Regions from separate parts of the Homo sapiens genome. Here region 2 is linked to region 1. Evidence: fine-mapped expression QTL. A gene starts in region 1. The other region holds a variant in brackets. All regions are shown on one strand. Distances are between the middles of the regions.

Region 1 (5,372 bases):
TCAACATACCTATTAGGCAAAAACCTATTTAGTTAGGTAACCTATTATGCAAATACCTATTTAGGTAACCTATTACCTATACTATTTGATCTCTGACACGTGACCTTATTATCAGGGATTGAAGTAAGAAAAGAAGATGCAAAACAGGAAGAATAATGGCTTAGCTAAAAGATTATTATCGAACATCATTAAAAGTAGAATTAAAAAAGGATCTCATATACTTCTCTATTTAAATGTTAGTATCTATCTTTTCTCAACTACAAGTTGGGAGCAAGAATCACGTTTGTATATTTTCTCACAGCCTCCAAAACACATTTGACCGAACTTAAAAATCAATGAGATGCACTTTCAGAATTCCCTTTTGTGTCAGGACCTGTAACAGGTGTACCCTGTTGCACAGAAATCAGAGCTAATCTTTGTTTCAATTCGTAGAGCTTTGTGGTTGATGTTATTTTTCAACTTAAAACACTAATTATGCTTTAAAAAATATTTCCTTTCCTCACTTAGAGATGTTTAAGAATACTCACTTAAGTCAATTTCCTGTCCCAGAGGATATTTACATACAAGCATTTTCAGTGGTATGAAAACATAAGAACTTCAATTTTTCCAGGTATCGACAACCAACTTGCCTTGTGTCTTTCTTCTGAAACAGCGTCTCACTCTGTCGCCCAGGCTGGAGTGCAGTGGCGTGATCTCGTCTCACTGCAAACTCCGCCTCCCGGGTTCACGCCATTCTCCTGCCTCAGCCTCCCGAGTAGCTGGGACTACAGGCGCCCGCCACCTTGCCCGGCTAATTTTTTTGTATTTTTAGTAGAGACGGGCTTTCACCGTGTTAGCCAGGATGGTCTCGATCTCCTGACCTCGTGATCCGCCCGCCTCGGCCTCCCAAAGTGCTGGGATTACAAGCGTGAGCCACCACGCCCAGCCGCCTTGTGTCTTCTTAAGAGTCTAAAGGATTCTACACACCGTGGCATATACTCTCACCCTCACCCGCCTTTGTTTTTCTTTTAAATCAAAGGATTTCCCAATTTATCACAGCTGGAAATTTCAGCTATCACATACTAAAGTTAAATGTAAAGAGGCATTAGTGTGTGTTACATGAACTCTACTAGTTTCCTTTTAGAGTGAAAAAACTACAGAATACCTCAGTGAGAGTCTGAAACTTCTCACTTTCAAAACTAAAAAGCTGCCAGAAATTTGTTCAAAGAGTGAATCCATAATCATTAATACAAACGCTCCATTCTTTTCACCATGTGAACTACTACGGCAATAGCCTCCTCGTCGGGTTCCCTGCATTTGCCTCTTTAACTCTTCTTTTTTTCGCTTCCTCTACTCTTCAGCCAGGGATGACATTCCAATCGGAGCCATCTCTCCCTTTTGATTGAGATTCCTTGGAAGATATCCCATTGCTATTAGGAGAAAACCAAAACTCCTTTACAAAGCCTAAAAGGTTCGACACTCCCCCTCATCCCATCTCTCCAGGCTCAGTTCTTCATATTGGAAAAGCTCCCTTCCGCCACAGGGCTTTCTGACAAGTTAGTCTTTTTGTCTGGAATGTCTTTTCCTTTTCTCTTTCCTTAGTTAACTCCTGCTAGCCCTTCAGCTCTCAGCTCGATCCTCACTTGCTCAGAAACCCTTCCTTTCCCTCCCTAAAGAAGCCAAATTCCCTCATTCTCCTATCACCGTGGAACTCTCCTCTGGGGCACTGCCACTGCGGTAATTTCACATCGTTTTGTTCAGCATCTGTCCGTCTCACCAGGCGCAGGTCTACGAAGGCAGAGGCCACCCCAGTGGTCGGCGCTCAACACCCATGAAGAAATGAAAGCGCCTTCTAACGCGTTAGACGATGAAACCAGGGCACACAACCTTGCGTCTAAGAAGTGAACATCCCATGCAAAAGACTTTTCAAAGGGAAGGGCCTGGTTTGAGAATGGCCAGAGACATACAAATGTGAAGCGCATACTGAATCCTTCCATTCATACTCCGGGAGAAAGACGATGGATCTGAAAGAAGCCGCCTGATATAAACAGGGAATTTCAATCACTTCGAGGCCGATTTTCCACAGCGGCTGGGCAGAGAACTGCAAACGTATACAGTGCTAGCACAGAGTCCGGAGGGGAAGAAACGGTGAGGTTTCTGCTTCCTCCTCGCTCAGATGCTCCCTTCCGCCCCACTTGGCCAACCCTTCCTCTCCCTCCTCGCTTAAAGCTAGGGGATGGAAAATTCATACACAATCCGGTTCAGCATCCGGGTCCTCACTCTCCTTTCTTTCTTTCCTCTGCCCCGCCTCCCAGCCTCCCCCGCCCTTCTTCCCATCCGGGTTCCCCCCAGCCGCCGCCACTGCCGCTCACAGTTCAACGATGATATCACGACTTTCACGCCGCCGGTCCGGGAGTAACTGTACCCCGCATCAACTTCCTATTTTATAATGTGGACTTAGGCTCTTCCCGATGCCTACATGAATCCTTCCCACTATTTCACCACAGAACTCTCCGCCCTCCTCAGCCGCCAGCGACACCGCATTAGTTGGTGCAAGAAAATGCGCCATCCCGGTCACACTGCGCAGGCGTCGTTGCCGCCTCCCTACTGCTTTGTTGCCCCGCCCCTTTCACCTCCCCCCCGCCCCCGCACCGGTCCACGCAGGCGCAGGGCATTGCGGGCCTTGCAGTTCTCGCGGACGAGGATTTGCGCGTTGGCCCCAGAGTATGGACTTTATTTCCCAGAAAGCCTTGAGGCGTAACTTTCTGTTTCCATAGAACTGGTGGGAAAATGGCGTCGTTGTTTGTATCCAGGGACCAATAGGAACAGTGTATAGGCGGGTTCTAAAGAACTTTAACCAATCCAAGGTCGTCTAAGAGGCCATCCGGGAAAGAGGTAGGGGAGGGGGGGAAAAAAAATCTAGGGGAGGGGAGAAAGGGGGGGAACCTAGAGTCGGTGGGGGGGAAGCGATGTTTGCCCGTCAGTCGAGTCCGGAGTGAGGAGCTCGGTCGCCGAAGCGGAGGGAGACTCTTGAGCTTCATCTTGCCGCCGCCACGGCCACCGCCTGGACCTTTGCCCGGAGGGAGCTGCAGAGGGTCCATCGCCGCCGTCCTCTGGAGGGCAGCGCGATTGGGGGCCCGGACCTCCAGTCCGGGGGGGATTTTTCGTCGTCCCCCTCCCCCCAACCAGGGAGCCCGAGCGGCCGCCAAACAAAGGTACCAGTCGCCGCCGCGGGAGGAGGAGGAGCCGGAGCCTCTGCCTCAGCAGCCGCTGGACCCGCCGCCCTTCTTCCCCATCTCTCCCCCGGGCCTGCTGGTTTTGGGGGGGAGAAGGAGAGAGGGGACTCTGGACGTGCCAGGGTCAGATCTCGCCTCCGAGGAAGGTAGGGATATTTTCTGGGGCTTTCGTGGTCTCCTAAGGGGGTTCTTTTGGGAGTCGCTGGGCCCGGCCAAGGAGCAGAGGAAGATCGCGGTGGTGGTCCCTGCGGCGCCCGAATTCGGGGCCTCGGCCTCCCGGGAACCCCCACCCCCCGCAGCCGCTGTGTCCGAGCCGCCCCCTGGCTGGGCGGCCGCACACTCAGCGGTTTAGCGGCCGCGGTCGGGGGCCCGGGCAGGGTGGGGGCCGTTCCGCCTCCGGGGCCCTCGGCCCTCACGTTGTCCCCGCGGCGGGGCCAGATGTTGATCTCGCTCCCACTTGTCGGGTCTGAGCCCGGAACGGGACGTGGGCAGGGGCTCTGTGGCGGGCCGGTCCTGCCCGCGGCCCACAGGCCCTCCTGGCCCCTCGGTGGCCCCCGGCCGGCCTCTCGCTCGGACGCGGCGCGTGGGGGCGCGGATTCGCTCGGCCGGGCGCCGAGGCCCTAGGGGAGAGCGGCCGGCCCTGCGCCGGACGCCGGGCTTGTTGTGAGTTTCTTCTCTGACAGAAATGGCGTCATTGTCGTAGACGGGAAACTCCGTCGGGTCTCGACAATGGGGACGGGAAGCTGCCGAGCTGTGTAGGTGGTTGGGTTTGCGGGGATGGCGGGGCCGGAGGGAGCCCCGAGTCGGCGTGTGATGGTTCGGGGGCTGGCGCCTGGTTGCGGCTCTTTCTTCGGGGTTCGGACGTCGCTCGCTTCTTTCCCTCCGCCTCCGCCAGTGCAGAGGGGCTCCTGTGGTGTTGACTGGGTGTCTTTTGTTTCCCCTCCAGGTGCAGCTGAACCTGGTGTTTTAGAGGATACCTTGGTCCCAGAGTCATCATGAAGGTAAGATTGCCTGCGGAAAACGAATCTCTGGGGTTATCGAATTCAGGAAGTAGGAGGTTTCGACGAGGTCGTCGTGTGGGGCTTCCGAGTTTTGCAGAGGAAGGTGTGTTTGGTGACTTGGTGACCGAGCCCTTCCCCAGAGAGACCGGGGTCAGCTGGCGGGCTTTGCTGTGGAGTTGGAGGCAGTTATAGGATGTCTCAACTGAAGATGATTCTCCCATATTGAACATCTCTTTTTGTAGGGAATGAGAGGAATAACGGCATGAATTAAAGTGTTTTAAAAGGTAAAATAAAAAGCAAGTCAGGTAATCTGACCCTAGAAACTGAACTGTATTGTGGTTCTATCAGTTACACTGATGAAAGAGAATCTTATTTATTGTGTGAACAGTACTGTAAAATTTTAGCAGAAAACTCTTTGACTCGTCACAAAAATAATTTAATTGAAAGATTTAAAAAGAGAATTTTTGTGATTTTTTACACAATTCAGAGATACCAGTTGTTTCTTGTATTTCCAGTGACTTGGGGTTATATGGTTTATTTTTCTTTATTGATCTGGTTGGTCTGTAAATAAGTCAGAGGCTCTGTTGCATTATGATGTGTGGAAAACTGATGGCCAGGTTCCTCTTAGATGTCAATATGTTAACTGAGTGGAGAATAGGGTCAAAAAATTTGCTTAATTGTTGGAAGAAATGATAACGATAAAAATACAGGTATTTTTGTTACTTGAGAGAATATGTATATGAATGCTGTCTTTTTTTTTTTTAAACACATGCTAGAATAAAACCTTAGATTTTTGAAAAGTCTGGATTCAACTGGTGGAACTTAGACACTAGCTTGTATTTTTTCATCCATTACAAATTCAGAAGTGCTTGAAAAGGGTAGAGTGTTCACAAGTGTAGAAATGCAACAGATAGCATGTTAGAATATCAACGTTGTCTACTTTTGACAGTTCCTTTGAACTATTTAAAAAAATATTTCACTTGTCCTCAGAATCAAGACTGCTTTGACAATTTTGCATCCAAATTAAAATTTGTAATACTTGTGGTTGTAGAAGGTAAAAGCTGTGGCTACTTAAATCTTGGTCTACTATACAGAGTAATTAAGTTTAGTCTAATTTTTTTAAGGTTTTCTCTTTGAGTTTGGGATGCTGTAAACT
Region 2 (5,372 bases), 24 kb before region 1:
ATTCATATAAACTCCACTTTCTAAATAATCCCCAATTCAACTACTTCATACCATGTTCTCTGCTACCACCATCTCTCACTGGACACTCAAACACCCTCCTAATTGGTTTCCTTACCTCCTCTTCTGACTCTCTGTAGTCCATCATCCACTCAGATGCCAGGATGATCTTTTATAAAGGTAATTCAGATCTAGTTACTCCCCTTCTTTTTTCTTTTCTTTTCTCTCTTCTTTTCTTTCTTTCTTTCTTTTTTTTTTTTTTTTTTTGACAGAGTCTTGCTCTGTCACCCAGGCTGGAGTACAATGGCGCAATCTTAGCTCACTGCAACTTCCGCCTCCTGGGTTCAAGCAATTCTCCTGCCTCAGCCTCCCGAGTAGCTGGGATTACAGGCGCACACCACCACACCTGGATAATTTTTTGTATTTTTAGTAGAGACAGGGTTTCACCATGTTAGCCAGGCTGGTCTCGAACTCCTGACCTCATGATCCGCCTGCCTCAGCCTCCCAAAGTGCTGGAATTACAGGTGTGAGCCACTGCGCCTGGCCTTTACTCCCCTTCTTCTTTTTTTTTTTCTTTTTTGAGATGGAGTTTCACTCTTATTGCCCAGGCTGGAGTGCAATGGCACAATCTTCCCTCACTGCAACCTCTGCCTCCTGGGTTCAAGTGATTCTCCTGCCTCAGCCTCCCAAGTTTCTGGGATTACAGGCATGTGCTACCACGGCCAGCTAATTTTGTATTTTTAGTAGGGATGAGGTTTCACTATGTTGGTCATGCTGGTCTCGAACTCATGACCTCAGGTGTCAAACTCATGACCTCAGGTGGTCCACCCACCTTGGCCTCCCAAAGTGCTGGGATTACAGGCGTGAGCCACGGCACCTGGCCTTACTCATTTTCTTAAAACCATCCATCGGCTTCAAGTTGCAGTTAGTTTTAAAACCTAAAGTCTGGCTGGGCGCAGTGGCTCATGCCTGTAATCCCAGCGCTTCGGGAGGCCGAGGGAGGTGGATCACCTGGGGTCAGGAGTTTGAGACCAGCCTAGCCAATATAGTGAAAACCCGTCTCTACTAAAAATATAAAAAGTAGCCGGGTGTGGTGGCAGGTGCCTGTAATCCCAGCTACTCGGGAGGCTGAGGCAGGAGAATCGCTTGAACCCGGGAGGCAGAGGTCGCAGTGAGCCGAGATCGCGCCACTGCACTCCAGCCTGGGGGACAAGAGCGAGACTTCATCTCAAAAAAAAAAAAAAAAAAAAAAAAAAAAAAAAAAAACCCAACCTAAAGTCCTTTCTATGATTTACAAATTCCTACACAATCTAATACCTATGTTGCTTTGTACATATTGGCACCATTCTTTCCCACCTTATGACCTTTGTTGGCTATTCCTTTGGTTTCAAATGTTCTTTACTAGGATTGTGGTATAGCTAATTTCTTATCATTCAGAGCTCAGCTTAAATGCTACTCCCTCAGAGGTCTTCCCCGGATACCCAATGTAAGTAGCCACTCTTGAAATTATCTGCTTAGCATTTATTGTTGGTTTTCTCATTTACTGGTGCCTTTATTTTTTAAATTTCAATATTTGAATAGATGACATGTTCACATGCTTCCAAAAAATGAAAAGTAATAAATAGGTATACAGTGAGAAGTCTCTCTTGCTCCTCCCACCTCCTAGTCCTCTGTCTCCCAGGTCCTACCCCTAGATATTTTGTGCAAATATTTTTCTTTTTTTTTTGAGACGGAATCTTACTCTGTCTCCCAGGCTGGAGTGCAGTGGCACATTCTCAGCTCACTGCAACCTCTGCCTCCTGGGTTCAAGCAATTCTCCTCCCTCAGCCTCCTGAGTAGCTGGGATTACAGGTGTTAGCCATCACGCCTGGCTAATTTTTGTATTTTTAGTAGAGACATGGTTTCACCATATTGGTCAGGCTGGTCTCGAACTCCTGACCTCGTGATCTGCCCGCCTTGGCCTCCCAAATTGCTGGGATTACAGGCGTAAGCCACCATGCCCGGCTTTTTCCTTCCTTCCTTCCTTCCTTCTTTCTTTCTTTCTTTTGTTTTTTTTGTTTGTTTGTTTTGTTTTTTTTGAGACAGTGTCTTGGTCTGTTTCTCAGGCTGGAGTGCAGTGGTGCAATCTTGGCTCACTGCAACCTCTGCCTCCCGGGTTCAAGCAATTCTGCTGCCTCAGCCTCCCAAGTAGCTGGGACTACAGGCGCGCGCCACCA[T/C]GCCCGGCTATTTTTTTGTATTTTTAGTAGAGATGGGGTTTCACCACGTTGGCCAGGCTGGTCTCAAACTCCTGACCTGGTGATTTGCCCACCTTGGCCTCCCAAAGTGCTGGGATTACAGGCGTGAGCCACCGCTTCTGGCCTTATTTTTTTTTTTCACAAATAGTAACTTACTATATAATCTCTTATAGAATCTTTTGCTTTCTTTTTGTCTTCATGTAGCTGGGAGATCTGGCTAACTTATTATTTATTTATTTATTTATTTATTTGAGACAGAGTTTTGCTCTTGTCGCCCAGGCTGGAGTGCAGTGGCATGATCTCAGCTCACTGCAACCTCCCCCTCCCAGGTTCAAGTGATTCTCCTGCCCTAGCCTCCCGAGTAGCTGGGATTATAGGCATGCGCCACCATATCTGGCTAATTTTGTATTTTTAGTAGAGACAGGGTTTCTCCATGTTGGTCAGACTGGTCTTGAACTCCCGACCTCAGGTGATCTGCCTGCCTCAGCCTCCCAAAGTGCTGGGATTATAGGCTTGAGCCTCTGCGCCCAGCCTGACTAACTTATTAGTAGGATTTTAGATAGTTCAGAGTACAATAGGAGGGCAGGAGAACCGGGTTCAGGTTCAAGACAAAGAACTGAGACAAAGAACCACAGCAACAGGTACCATTTGGCCAACATATGCTGCCAGATAAGTGAAGCGTTTTCTCCACTCAAGAATCTCCTTGGAGACAGTCCAACTGGCCAAGATTAGGTCATGTATCCAACCTTTGACTGTACAGGTCACTGAGAGGAAAGATATAACAATGTCCTGATACCCCTTGGCTTCTGTATGGGTTACTTTGGCTGTGCCCAACTGGGGAGAGGTAATTCACCAAAAGGAAATTAAACTGTGATTAGGAAGAATTAGGATGGGAGAATAGCCAATAAACAAGGGTATTAATAGCACCTACAGAGTTCATGCCTTTTTATGCATTAAGTATACCTTTTATATATTAAGTATATATTTAGTAAAACAAAAAAAACTAGGTCAACAGTAGAGGTCCAAGAGTATTGTTTTTCTTTTAAAGGACATGGTACATTATTTGAATTGGAAAAATCCTGCCATGAATCCATGTTAAAGAGATGTTTTCCAGCTGCCTTACTATGAAGTCAGCGTCTCACCAGCAGAGTGCAATTGGTCTGTAAGGCATAACAAAAAGACCTTGTATTAAGTCAGTCATAGCCTTTGAAAGGCCATTAGTTAACCAAAGGCCATATTTAAGTTTTGCTTTGTAAGGTCTCTACGAAATACTTAGCTAAGGCCATTCTCTTACTCGTTTTCTATCTGGGTGAAGGGGATTGGTTTGTTTCTTTTAGTTACATTGTTATTTATTATAGACATTTTGATTTGGAGAGGTCTTCAGCAAGAAATTACAACTTTAAGTTAGAGATACAGCAAATTTAATGAGTGGCTAGGGAAACATGTCAGACATATTATGAATACAGGCATGAATGTGAGAACTTGTAGGATATCTTTTTTTTTTTTTTTTTTTTGAGACAGAGTCTCGCTCCGTTGCCCAGGCTGGAGTGCAGTGGCGCCATCTTGGCTCACTGCAACCTCCACCTCCTGGGTTCAAGGGATTCTCCTGCCTCAGTCTCCTGAGTAGCTGGGACTACAGGCATGTGCCACCACACTCGGCTAATTATTGCATATTTAGTAGAGATGGGGTTTTGCCATGTTGGCCATGGTGGTCTTGAACTCCTGACTTCAAGGGATTCACCTGACAGACACATGCAGGAGCAACTGGCTAATTTTTTTATGTCTATTTTTTGTGGAGATGAGGTTTCTTCATTTTGCCTAGGTTGGTCTTGAATTCCTGGCCTCCAGCGATCTTTCTGCCTCGGCCTCCCAAAATGCTGGGATTACAGGCTTGAGCCACTGCACCTGGCTGGATATCTTTAGTTAAGAATGAATAGATAGGGTTAGGTGAAGTAAACCCTATTAAGGAATGATGGGAGATAAGACGGGAAGCAGATTATAGAGAGCTTTGACAGTGAAGCTAAGGTGTTTGTCCTACAAAGGATTTTTGAACAGAGGTATTCAACATAAAAAGCAGTAATATTAATCTGGCAGTTGTGTGCAAGATGGGCTGAAAGAACAGATCCAGTAAGTCAGGAAACATTAATTGTCCATATATGCTATGACATTCCAAGCCAGCTGGGAATTACTGGTGTGATCTTTGGTTTGTTGCAGCAGTCACTAGCTAAATAATATATTCCTATTGGAGCCATGATGTGACACAGGAAACTGCATCAAATTCTTCCAACTTCCTCATTAAATTGATACTCATAGGTGACTTTCAGTCTCAATAAATTGAGAATTTCTCCCAATATTAATGACATTCTCACGGTGCTGGATCCTCTCTTGCCTTCCTCTGAACTATCAGAATTTATACTCAGATTTTTTCTTAATCGTTATAATACTGTCTTAAATTGTATATATTTTATCTTTAGTGCTAACTCATTTATACAATGCTACAATTTTATTTTAATTTATTTTAATTTATTTTAATTATTTTAATTTATTTAATTTATTTTAATTTACTTTTTTTTTTTTTTTTTTGAAGCGGAGTCTTGCTTTGTCGCCCACGCTGGAGTGCAGTGGCGCCATCTTGGCTCACTGCACGCTTTGCCTCCCGAGTTCACGCCATTCTCCTGCCTCAGCCTCCCAAGTAGCTGGGACTACAAGCGCCCACCACCACGCCCAGCTAATTTTTTGTATTTTTAGTAGAGACGGGGTTTCACCGTGTTAGACAGGATGGTCCCGATCTCCTGACCTCATGATCCGCCCGCCTCGGCCTCCCAAAGTGCTGGGGTTACAAGCGTGAGCCACCGCACCCGGCCTAATTTTTACTATTTTTTTTGAGACAGAGTTTCGCTCTTGTTGCCCAGGCTGGAGTGCAATGGCAAGATCTCAGCTTACCCCAACCTCTGCCTCCCGGGTTTGAGCGATTCTCCTGCCTCAGCCTCCGAGTAGCTGGGATTACAGGGCAGGCACCACCACGCCCGGCTAATTTTGTATTTTTAGTAGAGGTGGGGTTTCTCCATGTTAGTCAGGCTGGTCTCGAATTCCTGACCTCAGGTGATCCACCTGCCTCGGCCTCCCAAAGTGCTGGGATTA

Evidence for each region.
Region 2: its variant is fine-mapped to the expression of GGPS1 in monocytes (TOPMed, PIP above 0.99). The same link has a PIP of 0.9 or more in fibroblasts.

Annotation. Positions count from the first base shown.
Region 1 is chr1:235,325,758-235,331,129 of GRCh38, reverse strand. It overlaps GGPS1 (geranylgeranyl diphosphate synthase 1), which reads right to left and starts at 2,560. Exons shown (of 4, transcript NM_004837.4): 1 at 2,352-2,560. ARID4B (AT-rich interaction domain 4B) reads left to right here and starts at 2,951. Exons shown (of 24, transcript NM_016374.6): 1 at 2,951-3,361; 2 at 4,162-4,216. The coding sequence starts at 4,211. RefSeq lists enhancers at 1,761-1,910, 2,411-2,500, 2,741-2,800, 3,537-4,062, 4,081-4,270 and silencers at 3,281-3,330, 3,501-3,730, 3,741-3,830.
Region 2 is chr1:235,349,672-235,355,043 of GRCh38, reverse strand. No RefSeq gene overlaps it. Among named protein-coding and RNA genes, the nearest start is that of TBCE, 15 kb to the left of the region's middle. The variant T/C (reference allele first, on the strand shown) is at 2,214.